Homo sapiens: one gene and its partners. The protein of the gene in region 6 purifies or fractionates together with the protein of the main gene of each other region. This does not show direct contact. Each region holds a gene or a part of one and is shown on either strand. Other genes may lie near its edges. The genes, in order: AGAP3, LIMD1, ZBTB21, SRGAP2, AGAP1, TANC2 and KCTD3.

Region 1 (3,500 bases), on a different chromosome or scaffold from region 6:
TCACCCACCTTTGTCTGGCCCAAGACTCCTGGAACATCCAGCCAAGCCCGGCTGGAGGATTAGGGTTTGGATGGGCACTGTGTGTCGCACATTGGGAGTGGAGAGACAGCAGGCCCTGGGGCCTGAGAGCCAGAGGCCACCCTCAGCCGGGCCAGCACAACAGCCCCCAGGTGTGGGGTGTGAGGTTTGTGAGGGGTGAGTGAGGAGCTCACAAGGAGACAGGACAAACCTGAGAGGGAGGAACGAGGCAGCGTGGTGAAGCCCAGGAAAAGATGGCTAAGCCTTTGTTAAACCAATCACAGCGGTGGGTGGAAAGCATGAATTTTCCCCTCGGCAGTGGGGTAACGGAAAAAGAGCCGGAAGGCGACGGGGAGGCCTGGGCTCTGACTCTAGCTGGGCCAGCTAACCCTCTGTGTCGCCTTGGGCAAACAGCCTTCCGGCCGCCGGTTCATTAGCTGTTGAATCAAAGGGGGTCAGGGGAGTTAGGCCAAGTGAGTCCAAGGATACTTTCAAGCTCACAGACACCCTAAAGGGGCCTAGGAGAGAGGAAGGCGGCGGGGAGGGTGAGTGTGTGCGGCAGAGGGCAGGGAGGACTGTGGGGACAGGGTAAGGGCCGCTACTGGAAACCCCTTGTGGGTGCAGAGAACAGTCTGGAAGACTCTGAGGGCACCGGCAAGGACCCTCGGGAGCCGTGTGTATCTGAGGGAGAGACTGCAGGTACCGTCTTCCTGACTTGGGGCTGCCCACGCCCCTCCTGGCTGGGAGCTCGGCGCTCAGCCCTGCCTGTGCAGCAAAGGCAGCTGGGCGGGGGAGGAGGGCAGTCACGTACCGTGAAGATGTTGGAGCGCCGCTTGGACTGCTTTCGGATGGGTGTGGGGGTGGAGGAGGCAGCGATGGTCTCGATGCGCAGCTCCCGCTGGCTGATGCTGGGGGTGGAGGGGACTGAGGACGAGTAGTCGCTGAAGGCGCTGCCGCCGCCATTCGTGGCCTAAGGACAAAGAGGGCTGCTGAGGGCAGCTCCGGGTCAGGGGCGGGACGGGCACCAGGCGGGTGCCGGGAATCCCTGTGCTAATGGGGGCCTGGCCGGGGCTCATGGGCAGCAGAGGGGCCACTAGCCCCTACAGATGATATGGGGGGAACATTCACCTGGCCTGGAGGCCAGCAGGATCTACTGTCACCTTGCCAGGGCTGCCCCACTAGGGCAGCAAACCCTCGTCCTGGGGCCCCGGCAGGAGTGCTTCTGGCCAACCAGGGAGCTAAGTCAGAGGCACAGGCTGGTAGGTGGGAATCAGCTGCAGGGCCTGGCAGTGAACAGACTGGAGTCCTGACCTGCAGGTGGTCTGGAAGGAGGTAGAGGGTCACCCCGGACAAACTCTCACATTCAGGTATGTATGTTTAGAGTGCAGGAGGCCAGGAGGCGGGAGCCGGAGGTGGCCCAGGGCACTGCAGCATGTTTCTAGCATGCCCATGGCAGGGAAAGGGATTCCGGGACAGCTGGGGCAGAGAGAACAGAGCTATGACTCCCAATCAGAGTAAGGTGTGGATGTGGAACAGAGAAGGGAAAGAAAGAGAAAAAGACAGAGATCACAGAATGGAGAAGAAACAGTAGGGCAGCTCCTCCAGGACTCGGGAAGCATGCACGGCACAACCAGGTGGTCTGCACCGCAACTGCCCTCACTAGAGCGTGTGGCCTACCCGGCTGCCTCCCTTGAACCCTAACCTGTACAAGAGGTGCTTGGACCACTGCCCCTCCACAACCTGCCCCTCGGGACAGGGACCACTGCAGAAGTGAGCTGCGCAAGCCCCACTCCGTCGGTGTCGGGCGGGGCTGCTCAGAGACAGTAAGAAGGACACAGCCCTCCTCCTCCTTTTTCCCACATGGGAACGCTGCCGCCTTCTCACAGCCCTGAAGGGAAGGGTCTCTGAAATGCAACCAGGCTGTCACTGGAATACCAGCTGCAGCCAGGGCAGGCCTTGGAGAGATGACGGTCATTGGCAGAGGTAAAGTGCAGTGGCTGCTGCCTTGACCATGCCACCTGTGGATGGCCCAGGACTTTCAGCAGAGGGCATCGGGGTAGGGAATGCAGGCTGTGGAATGGTGGAGAGCAGAGAGAAGTGGGGATTGCAGCGGGAAGGGGCAGGCACCGTGGGGCAGGGATGAGGCCAAGGCTACGGTGCCGGCTAAATGGAATTCCAACCAATGTTTCCAAGCAACATGCAAGGCTGGGAGGCCAGAGGAAGGTGGACAGGTGTGAGCAGGAGGCCAGCAGAAGTGGCAGGACGCACAGAGGCAAGACAGACATGGTGGGGACAGGAAGGGCAGGGCGGGGCACAGGCCGAACCTGGTTGATGTGCACGGCCGGGATGGAGGCGGCGGACACGGCCGAGTGGCTGGGCGAGTTGGGCAGTGACTTGCAGGGCCCGATGGCCAGTTGCTGCTTCTTTCGCAAGGCCACTACCTTCTGGGCCACTGCAGGGGACAGCAGAGTCAATTATACCCACTGGAGAGAAGGGAAAAGCCTGGCTTAGCACCTCCCCCCAGACACACAGCCTTGCTCTCACTGGGAGCCTTCCTATCGCCAGCACTGGGGCCGCGGCTGCCAGTGACTCCCACCCGGCACCCGAGTTACCGTCCTGGAAGACACGCTCCACATTGAGCCCGTAGGTCGCGCACGTCTCATAGTAGGTGCACCGCTTCAGATCTGTGGAGAGCTTGCGGGCTCTGCTGTCGTCGATAACCCGGGGATTCGCAGCGCTGATGGCATCTGTTGGAGGTGGGAGGGCGGGAGTCATTCAGCTTTCGGAGAAGCTGGGGTAGTGTGGTGGGGGGCATTTGGCCCAAGGGCAGGTGTGCAAAGGGCCTGGTGAGTGGAACACACAGAGCACCAAGAACGCGGGTGCCTGGGTCTCATTTCAACCCTTCCATGGCCTCACTGAGTGCAAACCAGCAAGCACTTAAGCTCTGAGCACGTTTATTCATCTAAAAAAACACAGACCTGCTAGTCACAGGGACAGCAGGTTTCAGTGGGGGCAAAAGCCCTCAGACACGAGCAGCACGGAGAGTGCTGAGGGTCCCAGTCAGCACTGGGAAAAGAGTAGGGGCTTGGGGGCTTTCTCACACCTGCCCACCCCTGCCCCCATGCATCGTTGCCCGGGACTTCCTGCTCTCTGCCAGCTCCTGCAGGGCCCCGCCTCACCCTGCGTGCCCACAAGCACCATGGGCACCTCGCTGGCGTTGCGGAAGCTGCAGAGACGCAGGAAGTAGTTGTACACCGTCTGGAAACTGATTTCATCCTCCAGGCTGAACACAAACACCACTGCATCCACCCAGGCAGCAAACTAGGGTAGAGCAAGTAAAATTAGCACCCGCAACTGGACCTGGCAAACTCCCATGCAGGGCAGGTGAACTCAAGTAGACCCTTCTCCCTGGACATACCACCTCTCCCAGTCCCAACCAGCAAGCTCGAGAAAGGGCTCCAGGCACAGCGGTGGGCCCTAAC
Region 2 (3,500 bases), on a different chromosome or scaffold from region 6:
CCCCAAATCGCACACCTGCCTGACAATGTGGCCCGCAGATAGGACCTGAAACCCATGCTCTCCACGACCCTCCTAGCTCTGCAGCTTCAGGGAGAGCAGCTCCAACAGTTGCAGGACTTGATAGTTCTGAATATGCAGAAGAAAGACCTTTATACCTTGAGCATTTCCATCTTCTCCTACCTCCCCCAAGAACCAGCCTTCATTCCATTTCCTACAGAAGCTCTAGAGGGCTGACCCTTGCCAGAATCTTGTTGACTGCCTCTTGCCCCAGTCAACGCAGGATGCTTTTCTCTTGGATGTCTACAATGGGCTTTGGGGGCTGGGTGGGGAGGGGTCTACCTCGCAGTGGTAACACTCCACGTGGTAGTCTCTGTCCATGGACACGACACGGATGGTCTCATCTGAGCCCTGGGACCAGAGAAAAGCAAGAACACATAGGAGAGGCCTGTTAGGGGGGCTGTCGGGCTTGATGTACCGTGGGGTGGGGAGGGAAGAGGGTTTTGGGGGTAACAAGTAGGTGGCCTTGGGAGGAGAAGGTAAATCAGGAGTACTTACTGGAAGAAGAATACATTTAAGCTGATGAGAGGGGAAGTAGGAGGGATAGGAGTCCTTCCTTCTAGAATGTCAGAGTTAACACTGAAAGAAAGACCTACATGGACACTTATTTTAAAAAATGAAGAAAAGACAAGCCTTTCTCCTCATCTGCTAATCTAAGAATTAGTATCAAGTAAGGGAGTTTGACCTGGTTATGGGGACAAATCAGCACAAGAAGGGTACTGGGTTGGGGAAGCCAGTCAACAAGGAAGGGTGAAGACACGACTTATCTCAAAGGTGAAGTGGGGTTTTTTTTGGTTTTTTTTTTTTGGAGACAAGGTCTTGCTGTCACCTGCTGGAATGCAGTAGCACCATCATAGCTCGCTGCAGCCTCAAACTCTTGGGCTCAAGCAGCTAGGACTACAGGCACATGCCACCACACTTGGCCAATTTTTAACAATTTTTTGTAGAGATGAGGTCTTGCTATGTTGCCCAGGCTGTTCTTAAACTCCAGGCCTCAAGCAATTTTCCTGCCTGGGCCTCCTAAAAGGGGTGGGATTACAGGCGTGAGCCACTGCACCAGGCCAGAGTTGAGATTTTTAAAAGGATACCTTAAAAGCTGTAAGGACAGGACATGGATCTTGTAAATGAGCCCAGGGAGATATTCATGTCTTAGAAGCCCCTGGGAGCATGTCTGGAAGGGCATCTTACCTCAGGTGGAAGGATGGGAAGCCCACAGGCTGCACACTTGGGGGCCAGCACCCTGTGGGGAGAAACAAAGCAGCAATAAATGTTGCTTCTGGGAGCAAATTCCAGAGTCAGACTTGCACTTGGAATCCACATGGAGCCTTCCTCCATGCCGCCTCCTGCCCCTTGCTCTCCTCCCTCATAGAATGACTGGTACCTGGCTCACTTTGTGGAATATGCCTTAGTATTTGCTCCCCAGCTGCAATGAGGACACTGGCTGCCTCTCACTCTTCTGGGGACAGCACTAACTGATTTGTTTACACCTCTCATGGTGCCTAGCACAGGCCCAGGCAAACCAAGAGTGGTAGGAACCAGCACTGCATAGGGGCCTTGTGAAGTTAGGTAACGCTGAAGCCACAGGGCTTGGTGGATTCCTCCCGAGGCCTAGCTACAAATATGATTATTAGTTTTTCTGTGCTCTGTTGTTTTTTTTTTTTCACTAAACATGATTCTTTAACCCATTCCTGTCAACACTGGCATCGACCAACCTCCCAAGGTCCCTGCTGTACCCCTCAAAACCATTAAGCCTTTGCTGGACTGTGATCTAAGGGCGGCTGGCAAACACAGTTTTGTCGGTTTCCACCACTCACTCTGCTGAGATCAGCTTGGCCTACACGAATGGGTCCTGTCTGCTCCCATCCCTTCTTACTTGTGGTAATCTCGGACACAGTAGATCTTGTTCTCTGAGTCCACGGTGAAGGGCACCCCATCCAAACACTCATTACAGATGACACAGCGGAAACAGCCGGGGTGGTAGGACTTCCCCAGGGCTTGCAGGATCTGGAGCAGAGACCAAGACTCAGTGGGGATTATAGGGAAGGATGAGATGGTGGAAGGGGAGAGGAACACATCAGGCCTAAGGATTACATGAGCAGTCACACACAGAGTACACTTACCCCCGAGTTTCACCTAGGAGAAGAGCAAGAGGTGATGGGGTGGGAAAGGCAAATCTGTTTAGATGAATACACAGAAGAGACCACACAGGAATCCTTCTCCTGCAGCCTCTCACAGGGTCTCTGAGCTGGCAGGGAAAGAGGGCTCCTTTCCAACCCTCACCCAGAACAGGAAACTCTTGCATAGTTCTTTAAGAGAAAGAGATGGTAAGGAAGGGATGGGCCAATCCCAGGGCCAAAATCCACCACGAAGAAGTGGGAAACGATGCAAAGCAGGGCCACAGAAGGATACATCCTTCCCAGATTTGGGAAGCAGCAAGTACTCGGAAAAATGAAAAGAAATTCCATGTGGAAATGGCAGAGCTCAAAAGGAACCCCTTCACTTCTGCCTCTTGGATGCCCCTTCTATGCAGCTTTGACTCTGGAGCATGATAATCTAGAAGTTCTGACTCAACCCAATGACCTCAAATCCAAGTGTAATAAGTAAAGTTTCTCTGTTGTTGTTTTTAAACGCAATAGAGGGAAAGCCCCACAAACTTCTTCCTCTCAGTGTCATTTAATCTGGATCTGGATGGGATACCTGGAACTGCCAGAGCCAACCTGAAACCAGGACAGACCCAAGACATGGACAGCAGGAAAGAGAAGAGATGGAAAGAACATCCTTGGTGAGGTCCGTAAGTAACTGAATTAACTCATCATGGAACCACATACCTCCAAGCCTCTTTTTAGGTGAGATAAAATATCATTCCTATGAAGTCAGTGGTCCTCGAAATGTGTGTGGCCCCAGACCTTCAGCATTAGCATCACCTGCAAACTTGTTAATAATGCACATTCTTGGACCCCATCCCAGATTTCTTGAATCAGAAACTCTGGGGGTAAGGCCCAGCAGTTGGTATTTTAATAGGGTGATTCTGATATATATTAAAGTTGGAGGATCATTGGTTTAACTCGAACTGAGTCTGGGTTTTTTCTATAATTTGCAGTTGAAAGCATCTTCACTGACTTAATAGGAGATTCATTTCTGCAATTACCTGCATCATGAAACTTAGCAAAAACAACTGAACTACAGAATCAACATGAGCAAGGTCACACCAAAACATGCATCTGCAAAGAATGTACAGAACGGTCATCAGCATCCAGCAGTGGGAGCCCACACAGAAAGCCTTCAAACAGGCTGAAGAAAGGGGATTTTGGATTTGGGGAAGCCTTGTCAGTACACTGTGAGACCCAGGGGTAAAGATATGCTGTGTTACAGCTCCTTCCCCTGGAAGCCTCAGGCGGATAACTCCACACTGCACAAGCTCCAGCCAAGAAGGCAAGAGGAGG
Region 3 (3,500 bases), on a different chromosome or scaffold from region 6:
GGAGAGCTGATGGTTTCATAACGAGGAGTTCCCCTGCACAAGTTCTCTCTTCCCTGCCACCATGTGAGATGTGCCCTGCACTCCTTGCCTTCTGCCATAATTACACAGCCTCCCCAGTCACATGGACCTGTGAGTCCACTGAACCTCTTTTTCTTTGTTAGTTACCCAGTCTCAGGTATGTCTTTATTAGCATTGTGAAAATGGACTAATTACACCTGGGTAATTTTTTTTATTTTTTATTTTTAGAAATGGGGCCTCACTATGTTGCTCAGGCTGGTCTCCAACTCGTGGGCTCAAGAGATCCTCCTGCTTCAGCCTCCCCAAGTGTTGGGATTACAGGCATGAACCACTGAGCCTGGCCAAGAGACCTTTAAAAATAGAAAAGAATTTGGAAAGCAAAAAATTATTTGCTAATTACTAATGAAAGTGTTTACGCCAGGCACGGTGGCTCACGCTTGTAATCCCAGCACTTTGGGAGGCCAAAGCGGGCAGGTCACTTGAGGTCAGGAGTTCGAGACAAGCCTGGCCAACATGGTGAAATTCCATCTCTACTAAAAATACAAAAATTAGCCGAGGGTGGTGGCATGTGCCTGTAATCCCAGCTACTCAGGAGGCTGAAGCATGACAATCACTTAAGCCTGGGAAGTGGAGGTTGTAGTGAGCCAAGATTGCGCCACTGCACTCCAGCCTGGTTGACAGAGCAAGACGTTGTCTCAAAAAAAAAAAAAACAAAAAAACAAAAAAACAAAAAAAAGATTAGAAGTGTTGAAGAATAAGTTTGTTTTCTTTCTTATGCTATTTGCCTTGCAATCTCATGAATACTATTTTCTTACCAAATCACATTTTCAACAATAGCACAAAGGAAACTTTAGCCTAGTTCTAAATTTAATTAAAGAGTTTAAACTGATATTTCACTGAAATGCTCTTCAAATCTAAACATGAGAAGAGGAGGCCTAGTGGTAGAGTGCAAGCTCTGGTGCCAGACACTTGGGTTGAGATGCCAGTTCCTTGCAGGCTGGCTGATTGTCCTTGGGTGTTTCTGTTAGCCTCTCGGTGTGGCAGATCCCTCACCTGAGTTAGGAATGACAACTGTGCCCTCCTCTTGCAGGGTTGTTGCAAAGAGTTCATCTAAAGAAAACTCAACAAATGTGCACTTAACTTTCAGAAATTGCAGGATTAATAGGCATCTAATTCAGTATCAAAGAAAGTGGGCAGATTAACCCCACCATACTCTCGATGCAGACAAAGCCATTTCATGCAGAGACAATGCCTGACTCTGTGTATTTGACCCTTTATTTAGGCTTCTGTTCCTCTAACACCTCATCCTTTTCATTTTTTTTTTTTTTTTCTAGACAGGGTCTCGCTCTGTTGCCCAGGCTGGAGTGCAATGACTCAGTCTTGGCTCCCTGCAACCTCTGCCTCCTGGGTTCAAACGATTCTCCTGCCTCAGCCTCCTGAGTAGCTGGGATTACAGGCGTGCACCACCACGCCCAGCTAATTTTTGTATTTTTATATAGTTGGGGTTTCACCATATTAGCCAGACTGGTCCCGAACTCCTGACCTCACGTGATCTGCCTGCCTCGGCCTCCCAAAGTGCTGGGATTACAGGTGTGAGCCACCACAGCTGGCTCATCCCTTTCATTTTATAATGCCATATTTTCTTTCAAATATTGTTAAGACATTTATTTTTAAGATTACATGAATCCCAAGTAACTATCTGTGACGGTTTTATCTTTCTCTAGCGGGCAAACTGTAGATGAACCAAACTTGACCCCAGCTCATTTGTAGGTTCTCTTCTGGCCTTTGCTGGTTACCCCAGCCACCAGGCTCTTCAGGAAGAGCCCAGAGTCTCCTAGGCTGTCAACCTGGGAGTGGCCACACACGGTATACAATTCCTTCTGACTCCCTGATAAGATGCGACTCAATTTAACCGACTGAGACACAGGACTTTGCTTCTAGAGATGATGCCTTTAGCCTGTCCACAAACAACTACTTTGGTCAGACTGTACCAAGTTTCTGTCCACTCCCGCCTACCATCCTTTCAAAGTAAATGGTAAATTTTAATTCCTCTATTTTTTTAAAAAATTATTCTATTTGTGACTACTTGATAATTTCCCTTCCTTTTTCTTCTCTTAGTCATTTAAATTTTCCTTAATCCTACTATACTTTCTTTACATCTATTTGTATGAAGAAACCCTTACCATCTTTTACAGAGATCAGCAGAAAAAGACATAAGCTTATAATGTTACACGTATTGACTCAGCTGGGTACTGAGGAGTTTTTAGCACTAATAATTTTTGACAAAGCTAGTTCAGATGTTGCCACAGGGAAAAGCTGTAACACAGAATTAAAGGTACAGATTTAAAGGCTTGGATAGTCTTTGTCAAAAGGGGTTCTTAAACTCAACTTGGTGGTTTAAAACTAGCAATTAAAAAATAAATGACTAGGACAGAGTAGAAAATATCAGAATGCATCAAATGTCATAAGGCTAATTATGAGCTTGAGAAACTTTTGTTTCTATTATATATATGTACATACCCACATAAGCAAGCATGGACTGGATTGAGATGTAAAATGTATTCCTTCCTGTGGGTCAGTCAAAATATTTTGAGAGCCACTGTTCTAGGCTAACCAACCTCTTTGAGCCTCAGTTTACCTCGCCATAAAATAAGGATAATACTAGCAGCTACCACATAATGCTATTGTGGGAATTAAATAAGATAATAATAGTCGCTACCATTTATATAGCACCTAACTGTACAGGAACCTACACTACAAACTATACCAGAAACTTCTCATGTCATTCATTCATCAAAATGGGATCAAAGAAGGTGTGAAGGAGGCGAGGGATGAGCCATGGAGATAAATGGAGGAAGAACATCACAACAAAGGGAGAAGCTAAGGCAACAGGAGGGATGGAGCAGTGTGTGCTGGGAGCCATGTAAGATGACATCTGAGAGGCAATAAGAAGTAAGACCGTCTAGGGCTGGGAGACCTCCAGAAGAACTTTATTTTTTACTATGGATGAAATGGACAGCCATTGAAGATTCTGAGCAGAGGAATGACAAAGACCTGAATTACATTTCCAAAGGATTGCTCTGGCTCTGTTGTTGAGATTAGACAACAGAGGGTAGGTTATGGGGGAAGCTGCGGGCCAGCTTGCAGTCCACTGTAATGACCCAGATGAGAGAGGATGGTGGCTGGGACCAGGGTGGTAGCAACGGAGGTAAAGGCAGAGTCATTAGAATTTCTAGTGGACAGACTGCAGGAGAAAACAGAAGGTGTGGAGTTAAGTATTCTGCCAAAATAACTGGAAGGGCATCCTTAGGAGAGATGGGGTTTGACAGAAAAACCAGGAGTTCAGATTTTTTAAAGAATTCAGTTTTGATATCCTACACGTGAGCAGCAACCTGTTCATCAATGTACCCTTTATGAGCCTCCATCTCCGCCTTACTGTCCCTACTTCCTTTCTTGTGCTTCCTGGGATCAGTTCCCAAATA
Region 4 (3,198 bases), on a different chromosome or scaffold from region 6:
TGAGCCCATGTCCTCAGGACTGCCTTACCAGATTTCACAGTGACCTGATAATGAAAACCTGTCTCTGGCTAACCTAAGAACGGTACGGACTGCAGCTGGCTGAATTACGACGACTGGGGGAAGCAGAGGGCAGTGGGAAGGGAGAGGCGATACCAAGGGCTTCATTCTCAAGGTTTTGGGAGACGGGGAGGCTAATTCCTGCAAGAACAACTTAGAACCTAATTTTCAACTGAAGTCCCCAAGCTAGTTAAATAGGAAGATTTTAATAACAGTCAGTCCCTATAGTCCCCTTGTCTAGAACAATTAAATTATTATCCCTCAGACAGTACAAGACTTGTCAGTAGACTGTGGGGAAGTTGATGAGTTGACACCAGGGCTAGTGGCATTTGTTTTGGGGAAGACAGTGGGCTTGGGCCGTGTGGCTGGTGGTTTGACCGGGGCAGCCATCTTGACAGACTTGACAGGCCGGAAGGCGCAGGCGATGTCCCCAGCAGTACTGGCGCTGCGCTGGAAGGCGGGCTCGGGGTCCTTGAGGAGCTGGGTGTGCAGAGGGCTGGAGGGCTCTGACGTGGGGGCCACCACTGGGGAGGTTTTGAGGGGCTCCAAGGTGTCCAGAACCACGTCAGGGGTGTGTTTGACACTGCTCTGCCGTTCTAGTTCCCGTAGCTCATTCAGGGCCGAGTTCATTGTTGCCTCAATATCCTGCAAAACAGGAAAAAGGAGGAGGTGAGGCAAATGAGGGGAGAATTCCCCAAGGAGCCGGTTTCAACAACACAGGCCAAGGCATGAAGAAAATGACCGTAAGATGTCCAGATTATTGTACTTGGCCTAAATCTTTGAACATATGAATGCTCAGGAAGTAGGGAAAGGGGGACGGAGGGATTTTCACTGTCATGAGATTTTTTTTTTTCCTTTAGAAAAAGTAATTGATATTTTTTTAGAGACCCTAGGTTTTAGAGATAGATATTGAAATACTTATCGACGAAGTGACATATAATCTAGTGGGGAAGAGAAACACGGACAAAGTAAGAATGGCCAGGAGTTTGGTGATGAGTACATGGGGATTTGTTATCCAGTTCTGTCTGCTTTTGGGTAGGTTTGAAATTGTACATAATAAACACTTTTTTAAAAAGTGGTAGAGATGATGTATGATCTTTATTCTCTTGGACTTCAAGGCCAAAGGTGAAGAGGGTTAGTCCTTCCTCCTCAGGGGCTGAGGAAAGTTTCAGGAGCCCAATACGCCTCCCCCCGCCCCTCCTCCCCAACTCAGGGCAGTGTCCAATTTGAAACCATTTCCTTCCAGCCATCACCACCAAGGGGACAAAAGAATGACCAGGAAGGGGAGCCAAAGCCCACATAGGTGAATCAATTGCCTGCAAATCAATGGAACACTCTAGATCTTTAGCCAACAGCAGTCCTAGCCCAGGGACTCAAGGCAGAACCAAAGAACCTTTGTATGCAAGCCAGCTGCCTTCCAGTGAGACTTCCCAGCTCCCCGCTCCCTCCCCATAAACCTGTGTCTGGCACCCCCAAACTACCACAGGATTTCTTCTTGGGATTAGGTTCACATGGAAAGATTTTACACATTCCAAGCGAAGGCCTTTGGTTAAGGTTTCTTTGTCGTACAGACCGATGCATGCTTTCTGTTCACAGTGATTCAGTTTCACTCATCCCTATGACATTCTCAAACCTTTAAAATGCTCAGGAAGAACTCCATCTCCCTCCTCAGTCGCACTCTACAGCTAGTCTGTCCCAGCTGTCTACCTTTCCTGACATTCCTATTAACACCTGGCCAAGGAGGGAGCTGGGAGGATTCCCGTAGCGCAAGGCAGATTGCAGCCAAGAGCTTAAATAGAGGCACAGAATAGAAGGCTAGCAAAGCAAGACATCTCAGGCCTGTAGCTCAATACTGGGCTTGCCAGGTACATCTCCGTAAGCAGAGAACCACAATTAAGCCAAGAGAGACCATGCCCAGCCTCTATCACCCCCTGGAAGATGGGGTAAGGAGAATCTCAACTCAGTTGAGATAAGAAGGCAACAATAAGCCCTTAGTTCCTACCTGGTCTAATGAAAATTATATAGTTGGGAGAGACGTCTGAGTGAACTGCTTGGAGTGGCCCCGGTAGTCGGATTTTTAGAGGTGGGGTTGGATCTCTAATATTTCATGGAAAACAGAGAGTCATCAGTGCGGTGCATACACAGAAGGAAGACCCTGCAACCAGGGAGCTCATCTCCATAGCCTCTGGAGGCTTGGGCTGCAAATCCTTTTGGTTACCAGAGCTCTCTGCAGCCAGAGTATTTTTTAGGTCTTTAAAACCAGGTGCAGGTTCTTAATTGATCATCTACCCATTCGGTACCAGAGACTAGCCTTAGGAATCGGGATGATGGTGATGGGCACAGCAATATAAACATGTGGCCAGGATTACACCTGATCCTCAACAGTCGGGCAGTTTCACTAAAGTCTACCAAGGTCTTTAGACTCAAAACTTGGGCTTTCAAAATACTCTTAATACCGGCTTTAAAAATTACAACAGCCTTCCTAATAGCCAGTGTATGAGCAAGAAGCTAGGCTTCTTTTATTCTGTCTTTAGGTTCTTCCTGGGGAGAGAGGGACAGGCAGACCACTTATTAAGCTGTCTTATTGGGTCCACATGTCCAGAGTGGACATATACTCAGTATATCACATACAAAATAATCATTCTGTTTCAAGTCCTGTCATAATTAGGTGGGTGGCACTAAGTGGTAGTGATGAATGTAGACTCATGCTGTCTGTCCAGGAGCCCACAGTTACCTGAGCAATGACCTCAGGGTCCATGGGCCGATGGTTATTGAAGCTTTTTGACCTTCCCGCTGTGGCAGTCTTCCGGATCTGTGGACTATCCAGCCGATTCTTCAGGGATGAGTGGCGGCTGATGGAGTTGAGGCTCCCGTGCCCACTGATGGAACACTTATCTGGCCCTTCTTTGGGGAGGCTCTGGCTCATGATGGGCTGGGAGGATGGGCGGCAGCTAGCCCCCACCCCTGGGGAGGAGGAGTCAGTCAGGGAACTGCTCAGCCCATGGCTGTCACTCCGAAAAGTTTTCCGGATGCTCCCAGATTCTGGACGCTTCCTTTGCCTTCAATCACAAACAGAAAGGGCAGTGTGATCAGGGAGCCCTGGCTCCAAGGAAGCTAGGATAAGTGGGAGGGGGCAGATGT
Region 5 (3,500 bases), on a different chromosome or scaffold from region 6:
TCCCTGTCTGAAAACGTGGGAATTGATGCCTCTCCCACGGTAACAGGTCCTCTGCCATAAAAGAACAGAACCTTCCCGCGTTCCTCTATCCATGGAGTGTCTGTGGATCTACGCGAGTGCTTAGATAGAAATTAACCCTGCAGCCGGAGATTAGCGGCCCTAACTTAATTTTCGTCCCACAGATAAGGATGGTCAGCCATGAGTTACATGGTTATTCTCCTAAGTTGCTTTGTGTGTGCACCACACAGAGACGCTGACATCACTCGTTGATTTCATCTGGCCTTGTGCCCTGAGCCTTGATTGAAACCTGGCTAAGTCATGCTGGCCTTAGGAACCACATCTGGACTGTTGGGAGGTGCATGGATTCAAATCTCCGCCGCCGTGGTTGTCCAGTGCCGTGCGCCTCACCGGTCCATGCAGGGGCAGCTGAACCCAGAGGCGCTTCTGTGACAGAGGGCCCGCAGGGGGACTGCTGTCTCATAAAAGCTAAACTCTTCATCCCACACTCTGTGTTTCAGAACAAGAAGAAAATTTTGAGTTTATCATTGTGTCCCTCACTGGCCAAACATGGCACTTTGAAGCCACGACGTATGAGGAGCGGGACGCCTGGGTCCAAGCCATCGAGAGCCAGATCCTGGCCAGCCTGCAGTCGTGCGAGAGCAGCAAGAACAAGGTGAGGCCCCTGGCTGCCCAAAACCAAGGCTGGGGCTGCTCAGGGGGAGTGCGGGCCCCAAGTAATGCCCCAGGGAGGAGAAAATAGAGGACCAGTGTGAATGACAGGACCTAGCTATTCTTTATGAGCAGAAAGCTCAATAACTAAAACGATCAGAAGCACTTTGTGTCTATACCATCATACATGAGTATTCCAGCCTGACCGTGCTTCCCTGGCAGGAGAGCCAAGGTTAAATCTTCAGTCTGTCAGCCAATCCCAGAGGGAATCTTTTGGACTCTTGTGGCTTCTGGGTCCACATTTATTTTTGTTTTGGACAGAATACACTCAGAAAAAAAGAGAGACGGACTTAAAAGATGCACTGTTCAAGTAAATGCCCAGAATTCAAATCGACATCAAGTTGGAAAACCGTCTCTTGTTAGGGACATAAATGAAAAGTAGATGGGTCTGTATGAGCGTGCAGGGAGTTTGGGAAGATAAAGTTTCTATTATCTAAACTGATAAAGCCTGGTATGTGTTTTATTCAATAATTAGAGGTGGTGGTGCAGCTCTTTTAGAATTTGTCCAGCAGGTTTTCTGGTTCTCACCAGAAAACGCCACCCCCAAATGTTTCTATATTAAAAAAATAATGAGAGGCAATTTGTTTTTTGTAGTTACTTAGCTAGAAAAGGAAAAATATTTTAACCTGTATTTTTTTTTCCTTTGGAGAGAGTCTATCTCTGTCACCTAGGCTGGAGTACAGTGGCACAATCTTAGCTCACTGCAACCTCCAAGCTCAAGCAATCCTCCCACCTCAGCCTCCTGAGTTGCTGGGACTACAGGCCTGGCTTGCTTGCTTATTTATTTGTATATTTATTTATGTAATATATATTATTTGTGGAGGTGGGGTTTCATCACGTTGCCCAGGCTGGTCTCAAACTCTTGGGCTCAAGCGATCCACCTGCCTCAGACACCCAGAGTCCTGGGATTACAGGCATGAGCTACCACGCCTGGCTTAACCTGTGTTCTCTAGGCTACTGCCCAGTGATGTTCCTTCTACAAAAGTCCTTTTTCCCATCAAGGATTGCTTCAGTTTCATTATTTTAATGTTTGTTTGTCTTTAACCTCTTTGCTGGGACGTCTTAGACTTTTGGAGAGCATTTTGATATTTCAGACTATGATCAACTAGAAACTAAGAGAAAGGATGTTACCCACCGACCTGCAGTTTCATTTGTAACCATTTAAAGAAATTTCTGCCTATGATTTATGTGCAGCTTTGTCACTAAAAAGAGAGTCTGTCTTTCAGAAAGATGAAGTGTCTTATTTTATTACCCTCTTTAACCAGGGTAAACCAGACCACAGTCATTATTATTATAATGTAATTTGCTTCCCTTTTTAAAAGATGTTTTATACTCAAGGTGGGGAGAACCACTGCCTTTCATTCCATACACCCTGGCTTTACTGGGTCACGTCCACATGCATCCATGATGTGCCTCCTGAAACGAGCACAGGGTGCTTTGGGGCCACCTCAATGGGAAGCAACAGCACACAGCATCCTCCAAGCGTGGGCAGCTCATTCTGAGAAGGAAGGCAGGGAGGCAGGCTGTGTTACCGAACAGAGAGGCACAGGTTCCTGCCTTCATGGAGAAATCACAGTCTTTCACGGCAGACTCTGAGCCCCTGCCACCTCGACCTAATTCAGGAAGATCTGGGATGGTGGCAGCCTTTCCCATTCCACACCTTGCCAGGCTCCTCCTGACTCGTGTCTCAGCTCATGCACACACCAGCCTTAGAATGCTGCCCTCGGCCCTCACTAGGCGCCTGTTCTCCAGGGAATTGCTCCCTTGGGAGGAGGACGCGTTGAGCAACCAAAGGTGGCCGACTCAGAGCTGGTCATCGTGGGCATTGGTTGAACAGGTGTGAGGGCATAAAACATGGAAATACTGTCCACAAGGAGTAGCGGGAGGCAAAAATACAGGCCCAGTTGACCACCAGCTTTATAGTATTTTACCTGCCAGTGGATAATTGAGAGCTGATACAGGTATAGGCATAGCTAGACAGACAGACAAACCAACCAACCACAGAAATGATACAGGTACACAGAGAGACAGAGGCACATCCCTTTGTATGTGTGTGTGTGTGTGTGTGTGTGTGTGTGATCACACACTTGCATTCCAGATGCCAGTGTAAACTGTTTAAACATATTTTGAATACTTGGGTATCTAACCAAAGGGAATTAAAATTCAATAACGCATGATGCTAATTAGACAGTAGTGATTAATACATTATAATTTATTATGTAGCAAGTAATATATTATTTCACATCAATTTGATGAGATGTTTCAATTTATGAAGAATTCTTACGCAAAAATCAAGCTTATTGTAACTGTCCTCTGAAATTGATCAATTTTTGCTTTAACCATAATATTAAATGCATACTTAATAAATAAGCCTCAAAAACACTACATATCAGCCAGACACGATGGTTCACGCCTGTACTCCTAGTGCTTTGGGAGGCTAAGGTGGGAGGATCACTTGAGGCAAGGAGTTCGAGACCAGCCTGGCCAACATAGGGAGACCATTGTCTCTACAAAAAAATTTTTAAATAGCCAGGTGCATGGTTCACACCTGTAGTTCCAGCTACTCAGGAGGCTGAGGTGGGAGGACCACTTGAGCCCAGGAGATGGAGGCTGCAGTGAGCTATGATTGCACTACTCCAGCCTGGGCAACAGAGCAAGACCCTCTCTCTAGGTGGGGAAAAAGGTACATATCCAGTACATATCCTTTCACTTAGAACTTCTACTTCCAGGAATCTATTCTTAGTAAATAATCATGAGTGTGTACCAAGACT
Region 6 (3,500 bases):
ACTATGATTTGAGATTTTATAGAAAGGATTAAAATTAATTTTTGTCAAGTTAGTAGTGTTCAAAAGAAATAGTCCAAAAAAAATGCATAAAAAGAGTAGGCCCAGCAGTATCTGAGTTTTTCGGTTTACAGTTATTCAAAAACTCTTTCTCTCAGCTTTTATCAAATACTTCACAAAAGAAAATTTAAGGATATGAATAAAATAAATCAGTATCCAAACTACCATGGGTTTCTAAAATGCCTTGCAAGGCTGAAAAGGAAATCAAGACAAGATAACAAAGAAAAGCTGGAGTGACAATGCCAGTAAAAAATTGGGAGGAGCTGGCATATATCAAAAAAGAAAAATTTAGGATACTTTCCACAGGCTAATAAAAATTACCATTTATTAAGTACTAGACATCGTCCTAAGGATTTTCACCAAGATATTTTTCATTTCATCATCATAAAAACCCTGTGAGATAGATTTTTGGCCCCTCATACAATTAGTGACAGAGCAGTAATTCAAACCCATTTTCATGATTCAAAACTCATAAAGTCATATTCTTTCCAATATATACTGGTCTCATCATTGGAATTTCTAAACTTACAACTGAGCAACAGTACTGTCATCCTATAATATAGGAATGTCTGAATAACAGCTTTCAAACAAAGTCTGTCTCTACATTAAAAAAAAAAAAAAATTAAAAAAAAAAGCCCGAAAATGGAAAAGCTGATTCTCTGATCCTGAGGCAGAATATGGGTGTATGTGGTTGGACGGTTATTTATGTGGTTTAATAAGTCTTCATTCCATAGGCCCACTAAAGCTATTTACATTCATTCACACTAATTCACAATCCCAGGGTGCCCTAGAGGATTCCATGGAATTTGAACAGAAATAGAATTACAGAGTACAATAAATATGTATCAAGTTTCTATAACCTATAACCTAACTAGCTGTGCCTTACCAAATTTCAGCAACCACAACTAGAAATTGTGGGATTCCTCCACCCAATGAAAGATTAGGAATAAAGGGCTAAGAAGTGACTACCTTCATTTAGGCAGACAGAATTGCCTGAGATCTGAGATTTGAAGCACATTCTCCAAGCATAAAATGACTAAATCACAATCTCTATATACCCACTCTCGTTTCCAAGTTCAATAACTATAATCTACTTATAAGGCTGGATTAACCAGGGGATTTCCATGGCAGTAAAAAACTGGGGCCATATTTCTTAATGTTGTCAATCTTTATAATCAGCTACGTCATCATATGATAATGCTAGCATGGTATTACAGACAAGGAAATAAGAATGGCTACCTGGTCCAAAGATCATCCATTTGGAATGACAAGTTTTCCACTATTATTGCTTACGTACTTTTCTTTATGAATTTTATGTCTGTAACATTGGCTGATATCTACGAAAAGGAATATATCAATCACTGCCTTTTCATAACACTTTGCCACATAAAGAAAACAGTAAAATCTATCATCATTGGCTTACTGAACTTCAGGGAAGTGGCAAATATTAATAGTATGGTACATATGTTTTTGAACTATATTTTTCCCAGGGGTAGAAAAAATATGTAAGACACAGGATTCTGAATTACAATTTTAGCTTTTAAGGAAGAATATGAAATTTCCATCCCCAAGTCAAAGACAATAGTAGTAAAATTAACAACTTATACATAGTAGTCAATAAATATTTAAATGAATGAATATGTTAATACACTCCATAAAAATACCCCAGTTTTTCCAACATAACTAATCCACCTCAACTTTTAAACTTTACACACAAGGTGTCTGCCTAACAAACTAATATACAAAATCAAGGTTTTTAAAAATATAACAATGATCTTTTATTGCAAAAAATGTATATGAGAAACTGAGATGTGAGCGAAGAAAAACATTCTACTACATGCTGTTCTCCAAACTCCTCTCCACCTTTTAAAGAAAAAAAAAGGAATAGAATCTTGAAACACACTTTGTGAGAGTCTTATTCAGTGTTAGATGTAATAAGGGTGTCATCAGAGAGGTACAACAGGGGCCTGTGAGATAAATCATTACAAAAGCAAAGTGGCCAATCTTCTCAGTAAATAGAAGGAATTATGCCCTGCGAAGCCCTTCAAAAAAGTAGCTGGTATATCTCCAACTCATGATATTCAACGAACACTTAATGGGCACAGGCTATGTAACAGACCAAGGACTGACAAACTTATTCTCTAAAGAGCTAGCTAGTAAATATTTAGGCTTTGCAGGCCGTATGGTCTCGACAGCAACTAGTAGTCAACTCTGCTGCTGCACCCAATACCCAATATGTAAATAAGTGAATATGGCTAAGTTCCAATGGAACTTTCTTTATGGACAATGAAATTTGAATCTCCTTTAATTTTCATATGTCATGAAGTATCATTCCTCCTTTGATATCTTTTCAACTGCTTAAAATTGTAAAAACCATTCTTAGTTTGCAGGTCATACAAAAACAGACAATGGGCTGGATTTGGTCTATGGGCTATAGTTTGGCAACTCTTGCATTGTACAAAGAAAATCATTTGGCTAAAGTTCAGAGAATCTTCTCATCTTCCTCTTGCCACCAGCAAACATAAAAAAGAACAAAATCTGGTTTATCTTTAGGGTTAGTTTTAGTTACAGTCCAGGACTTACTCTGAGTAATATTTTAGATGGTGTGTATATTTCTCTAAACCTACCTCCTGGTGCCTAAAGTTTCCTCTAATTCCACAATAAGAGATGAGGTTTCAAAGGCATAACTGAGATAACGGTCAACAATCCTCACTCAATAAGTAGATAATGAGCACCTACTATGTACTAACTATACTGATGCTGAAAAGATGAAAAGTCACAGTGCCTGCTTAAAAGCTCACACATTAGTGATGAACCAGTCATATTAAATATTTAAAATATGTTACGGCCGGGTATGGTGGCTCATGCCCGTAATCCCAGCACTCTGGGAGGCTGAGACGGGCCGATCATTCGAGGTCAGAAGTTCAAGACCAGGCTGGCCAACATGGCAAAACCCCATCTCTGCTAAAAATATAACAAAATTAGCTGGGCATGGTGGCACATGCCTGTGATCCCAGCTACTCAGGAGGCTGAGGCAGGAGAATCACTTGAACCCAGGAGACAGAAGTTGCAGTGAGTCAAGATGGCCGCCATTACACTCTAGCCTAGGCAACAGAGTGAGACGCCGTGTAAAAAAAAAAAAAAAAATGCGGCAACTACTATATACACCAAGTGCAAGGGGAGAATAGATAGAGAACATCATGCCCAAGCCCACCTGGAGGAGTAAGCAAAACCTTCTTCACTCGGAAGACATTGGGCTAACGCATGATGGCTGTGAAGCAGTTTGCCCAGAGAACAAAGGAGAGGGCAGGAGTAGTCCATGAAAAAAAGAACTTCATAAAGGCATGAAAAGGTAGGAGAATACTACATACTGAAGGAACCACACACAGTTTACTACCGCTAAAGCACTTTGAAGACAGAAGTGGCAGGCAATGAGTCTAAAG
Region 7 (3,004 bases), on a different chromosome or scaffold from region 6:
GTTGGGTATTATAAACAAAATTTATTTCTTTTGGGGAAATTGACTGAAATATTGTAATCACATAGTTGTTCTAGAAAGCCATACTTCTCAAGGTACATTTTAAATTCAGACATTATGTTAACTTTTTAACAGTTTTACCAAATTTCTTGATAGGCATATCTGGTTCTTTTCATAGAAAAACATTTTTACCTTTTAACTTATTTTGTGAATTGCTGCCCAATTGGAAGCCTATTATGTGATCAAGAATTTATTCAAAGGAAATTAGGAAAATTACATGTCACCTTGGTTAGTATGTGAAGCTTTAATTATTGTCCTGTCTCAGGGACAATATTTATCTGTGGTTCTATTATGTTGTCTAGTCTTACATTTAAGCATTATGTAATTTTAATACAAAGTTCCATAATGTCTTTTTAGTTATCATATTGATAAATTCCAAAGTCTGAAGAACCAAGGGCTAAATACTGAATTATGATGGTTTCACATTGGTTTCAAGGATTTTTCCTCCCATCTTTTTTTTAGCTGTTCAAAAATTCAGCATGTCTGTGAATATATGATGGTATTATTTGCATTGGTAATTTTATATACCATCTATATAATAAAGAGTACTTGATAAGTATATTTTTACAAAGAGAAATATGGATATAATACACTTTATGTATTTATATAGTGTGTTTTATTGGTTGTATAATTAATATGTTCCTGAGAAATCACAGAGTGAAATCTGAACTGTCATTTTTAAAAACTGTATTTCAGCCTTCAGCTTCAGCACCATGATACCACCCATGAAGCAGCTACTTACGGTTCCATGAGGCCTTACAGAGAAAGTCCTTTATTAGCAAGGGCAAGAAGGACTGAGAGCTTTCACAGTTATAGGGACTTCCAGACTATTAATTTGAACAGAAATGTAGAAAGAGCTGTCCCTGAAAATGGTAACTTGGGTCCAATACAAGCTGAAGTGAAAGGGGCAACAGGGGAATGTAATATATCTGAGAGAAAGTCTCCTGGAGTAGAAATAAAAAGTTTGAGAGAATTGGATAGTGGATTGGAAGTGCATAAAATAGCTGAAGGTTTTTCAGAATCCAAGAAAAGGTCATCAGAAGATGAAAATGAAAATAAAATAGAGTTTAGGAAGAAAGGAGGATTTGAAGGGGGAGGATTCCTTGGAAGAAAGAAAGTTCCCTATCTGGCGTCATCACCAAGTACTTCCGATGGAGGAACTGACTCACCTGGTACTGCGTCCCCATCTCCTACAAAGACTACTCCATCTCCTCGGCATAAAAAAAGTGATTCTTCAGGTCAGGAGTACAGCTTGTGAAAACTCACCAAAATGAATAGTTGTTTCGTTACATTTAGATGAAAGTTAAACTTTACTGAATTTCAGTACATTAGTTTTTACACTAAAACTTTACAAGATAAAATTGGACTTCATTTAGTATCTTTTTAACAGAATTACTTGGAATAATGAGATACAATAATCATATCTCTTTTGACATTTTGGAAATTTTTTTAATTTTACAAGTACATTTAACAGATCATTTATAAAGCAGGAGTCCATTTTAACACTTACCGACTTTTTTTGGTTTGGAAACATATTACCACGTCTTAATAGGATGGTGCCCATATAGGTGAGCATCCCTTTAGATCATGGGAACCAGCAGACTGCATTCCTAATCTTCATTATGCCTGAGACTTGTCTTACAATGTTACCTTTAAGTGAATCACATAATTGTCTTTGGAACTTGGTCTCCCAACACTTATTGTGATTGCAAAGTGTTTACCAGATATTTGATGAGGTGCTATGTTTGTGAAAAACATATCATGTAATTCAAAAACACTATTGATATTGAATACCAGATACCACTATGTAGTAAGTCTTTTAGGATGATTTTAATTTAGTCGTGCGTCATTTTCTGATTCTCATCATTGGGAGATCTTAAATCTTAGCAAGCATTAGCAATATTAAATGCCAAAATTCCATTGAAACTTTCAAGTTGGAGCAATTGTCTGTGTTTGAAAAGATGAAATAAAAATAATAATCAAGGGCAAAGCTTTGAGTGCCCAGAAGGGAAAGCTGTACCAGTTGCTAACCTGTCTTGTTTCAGGAGCCACCATGTTTTTTTTTCAGTGTTAACAACAATCATGATAATTAAATTAAAACACTAGTTTGTTCACTTGTAGGACTGCAGTTCTGAATTTTGGGTTAAAGGTTTTGGCTGCTGTAAGAATGTGAATTTGAATGTATTTTGAATTGTAAGAGCAAAAGAACGTTTTTGTACAATTTTTTTTCATTTAATTGGAATGATCTTCAGGTTTCTACAAATAGGGTAATTGTAAATTTAAAGCATTAGCATTTATTGGTGAATAATGTATATATCCCCATTCCAAGAAATATAAGTGAGTGAAGTTGAAATAAAATCTTTAAAATTTACTATATTGCCAGTGGTTTCACAACAGTTCTCTTGTATTTATTTATCAATTAAATCAAATAAAAATGATTATGTCAATGCGTTTTCAGTTATTTAAGTAACAGTTCTGTTTAAAGTGTGCTATATATGTTTGTTCATTTCTTTGCTTCTTCCCATAATTTAAAAAAAATGGGGGGAGGGAGAACTTAATATATGTGGAAAATAAGTTATTATCAATGAAAGAAAATATTAGGCAAAGCATAATTTCAAAATTACTAAGATTGTAATTATCTTACACCCTTCTTCCTCTTTATGACAGTTATGTGAAAGTTGGGTGGGCAAGTAAGAAAATGAAAGAAAAAACTAGACTCTAGTGACCAGGAATAAAAGGCCATTAAAAAGAAGATAGTAACTATTATGTAATAGAATCGCATAAAAAGGAAACTGACTATACTAGATTGCATTACAGTACAAGTCAAATCGTTTCTTTCTTTTGCTTACAGGAGATTGAACCTTGATGCAGTGGTTTATGTCTGTCTACTCTGACACTAATTTCTCAGATTGCCCCCATTATGCCTTAATTTTTTCATTATACCTAC

Evidence for each region.
Region 1: the proteins of TANC2 (region 6) and AGAP3 purify together in Homo sapiens (affinity purification with mass spectrometry; one large-scale study listed by BioGRID and IntAct). This does not show direct contact.
Region 2: the proteins of TANC2 (region 6) and LIMD1 purify together in Homo sapiens (affinity purification with mass spectrometry; one large-scale study listed by BioGRID and IntAct). This does not show direct contact.
Region 3: the proteins of TANC2 (region 6) and ZBTB21 purify together in Homo sapiens (affinity purification with mass spectrometry, with the first as the bait; one large-scale study listed by BioGRID). This does not show direct contact.
Region 4: the proteins of TANC2 (region 6) and SRGAP2 purify together in Homo sapiens (affinity purification with mass spectrometry, with the first as the bait; one large-scale study listed by BioGRID). This does not show direct contact.
Region 5: the proteins of TANC2 (region 6) and AGAP1 purify together in Homo sapiens (affinity purification with mass spectrometry; one large-scale study listed by BioGRID and IntAct). This does not show direct contact.
Region 7: the proteins of TANC2 (region 6) and KCTD3 purify together in Homo sapiens (affinity purification with mass spectrometry, with the first as the bait; one large-scale study listed by BioGRID). This does not show direct contact.

Annotation. Positions count from the first base shown.
Region 1 is NC_000007.14:151,117,475-151,120,974, reverse strand, and holds part of AGAP3 (arf-GAP with GTPase, ANK repeat and PH domain-containing protein 3), read right to left. Parts: intron 3,340-3,500; coding exon 3,198-3,339; intron 2,766-3,197; coding exon 2,631-2,765; intron 2,502-2,630; coding exon of another isoform or gene 2,471-2,501; coding exon 2,343-2,470; intron 989-2,342; coding exon 830-988; intron 456-829; coding exon of another isoform or gene 390-455; exon of another isoform or gene 320-389; coding exon of another isoform or gene 230-319; intron 1-229. UniProt on the Homo sapiens protein: GTPase-activating protein for the ADP ribosylation factor family. GTPase which may be involved in the degradation of expanded polyglutamine proteins through the ubiquitin-proteasome pathway.
Region 2 is NC_000003.12:45,671,251-45,674,750, reverse strand, and holds part of LIMD1 (LIM domain-containing protein 1), read right to left. Parts: intron 2,062-3,500; coding exon 1,931-2,061; intron 1,298-1,930; coding exon 1,246-1,297; intron 409-1,245; coding exon 340-408; intron 1-339. UniProt on the Homo sapiens protein: Adapter or scaffold protein which participates in the assembly of numerous protein complexes and is involved in several cellular processes such as cell fate determination, cytoskeletal organization, repression of gene transcription, cell-cell adhesion, cell differentiation, proliferation and migration.
Region 3 is NC_000021.9:41,996,861-42,000,360, forward strand, and holds part of ZBTB21 (zinc finger and BTB domain-containing protein 21), read right to left. Parts: intron 1-3,500. UniProt on the Homo sapiens protein: Acts as a transcription repressor.
Region 4 is NC_000001.11:206,458,541-206,461,738, reverse strand, and holds part of SRGAP2 (SLIT-ROBO Rho GTPase-activating protein 2), read right to left. Parts: intron 3,117-3,198; coding exon 2,792-3,116; intron 2,155-2,791; coding exon of another isoform or gene 2,065-2,154; exon of another isoform or gene 2,060-2,064; intron 703-2,059; coding exon 319-702; 3' UTR 1-318. UniProt on the Homo sapiens protein: Postsynaptic RAC1 GTPase activating protein (GAP) that plays a key role in neuronal morphogenesis and migration mainly during development of the cerebral cortex. Regulates excitatory and inhibitory synapse maturation and density in cortical pyramidal neurons.
Region 5 is NC_000002.12:236,036,043-236,039,542, forward strand, and holds part of AGAP1 (arf-GAP with GTPase, ANK repeat and PH domain-containing protein 1), read left to right. Parts: intron 1-518; coding exon 519-673; intron 674-3,500. UniProt on the Homo sapiens protein: GTPase-activating protein for ARF1 and, to a lesser extent, ARF5. Directly and specifically regulates the adapter protein 3 (AP-3)-dependent trafficking of proteins in the endosomal-lysosomal system.
Region 6 is NC_000017.11:62,972,735-62,976,234, reverse strand, and holds part of TANC2 (protein TANC2), read right to left. Parts: intron 1-3,500. UniProt on the Homo sapiens protein: Scaffolding protein in the dendritic spines which acts as immobile postsynaptic posts able to recruit KIF1A-driven dense core vesicles to dendritic spines.
Region 7 is NC_000001.11:215,619,304-215,622,307, forward strand, and holds the end of KCTD3 (BTB/POZ domain-containing protein KCTD3), read left to right. Parts: intron 1-753; coding exon 754-1,315; 3' UTR 1,316-2,504; downstream 2,505-3,004. UniProt on the Homo sapiens protein: Accessory subunit of potassium/sodium hyperpolarization-activated cyclic nucleotide-gated channel 3 (HCN3) up-regulating its cell-surface expression and current density without affecting its voltage dependence and kinetics.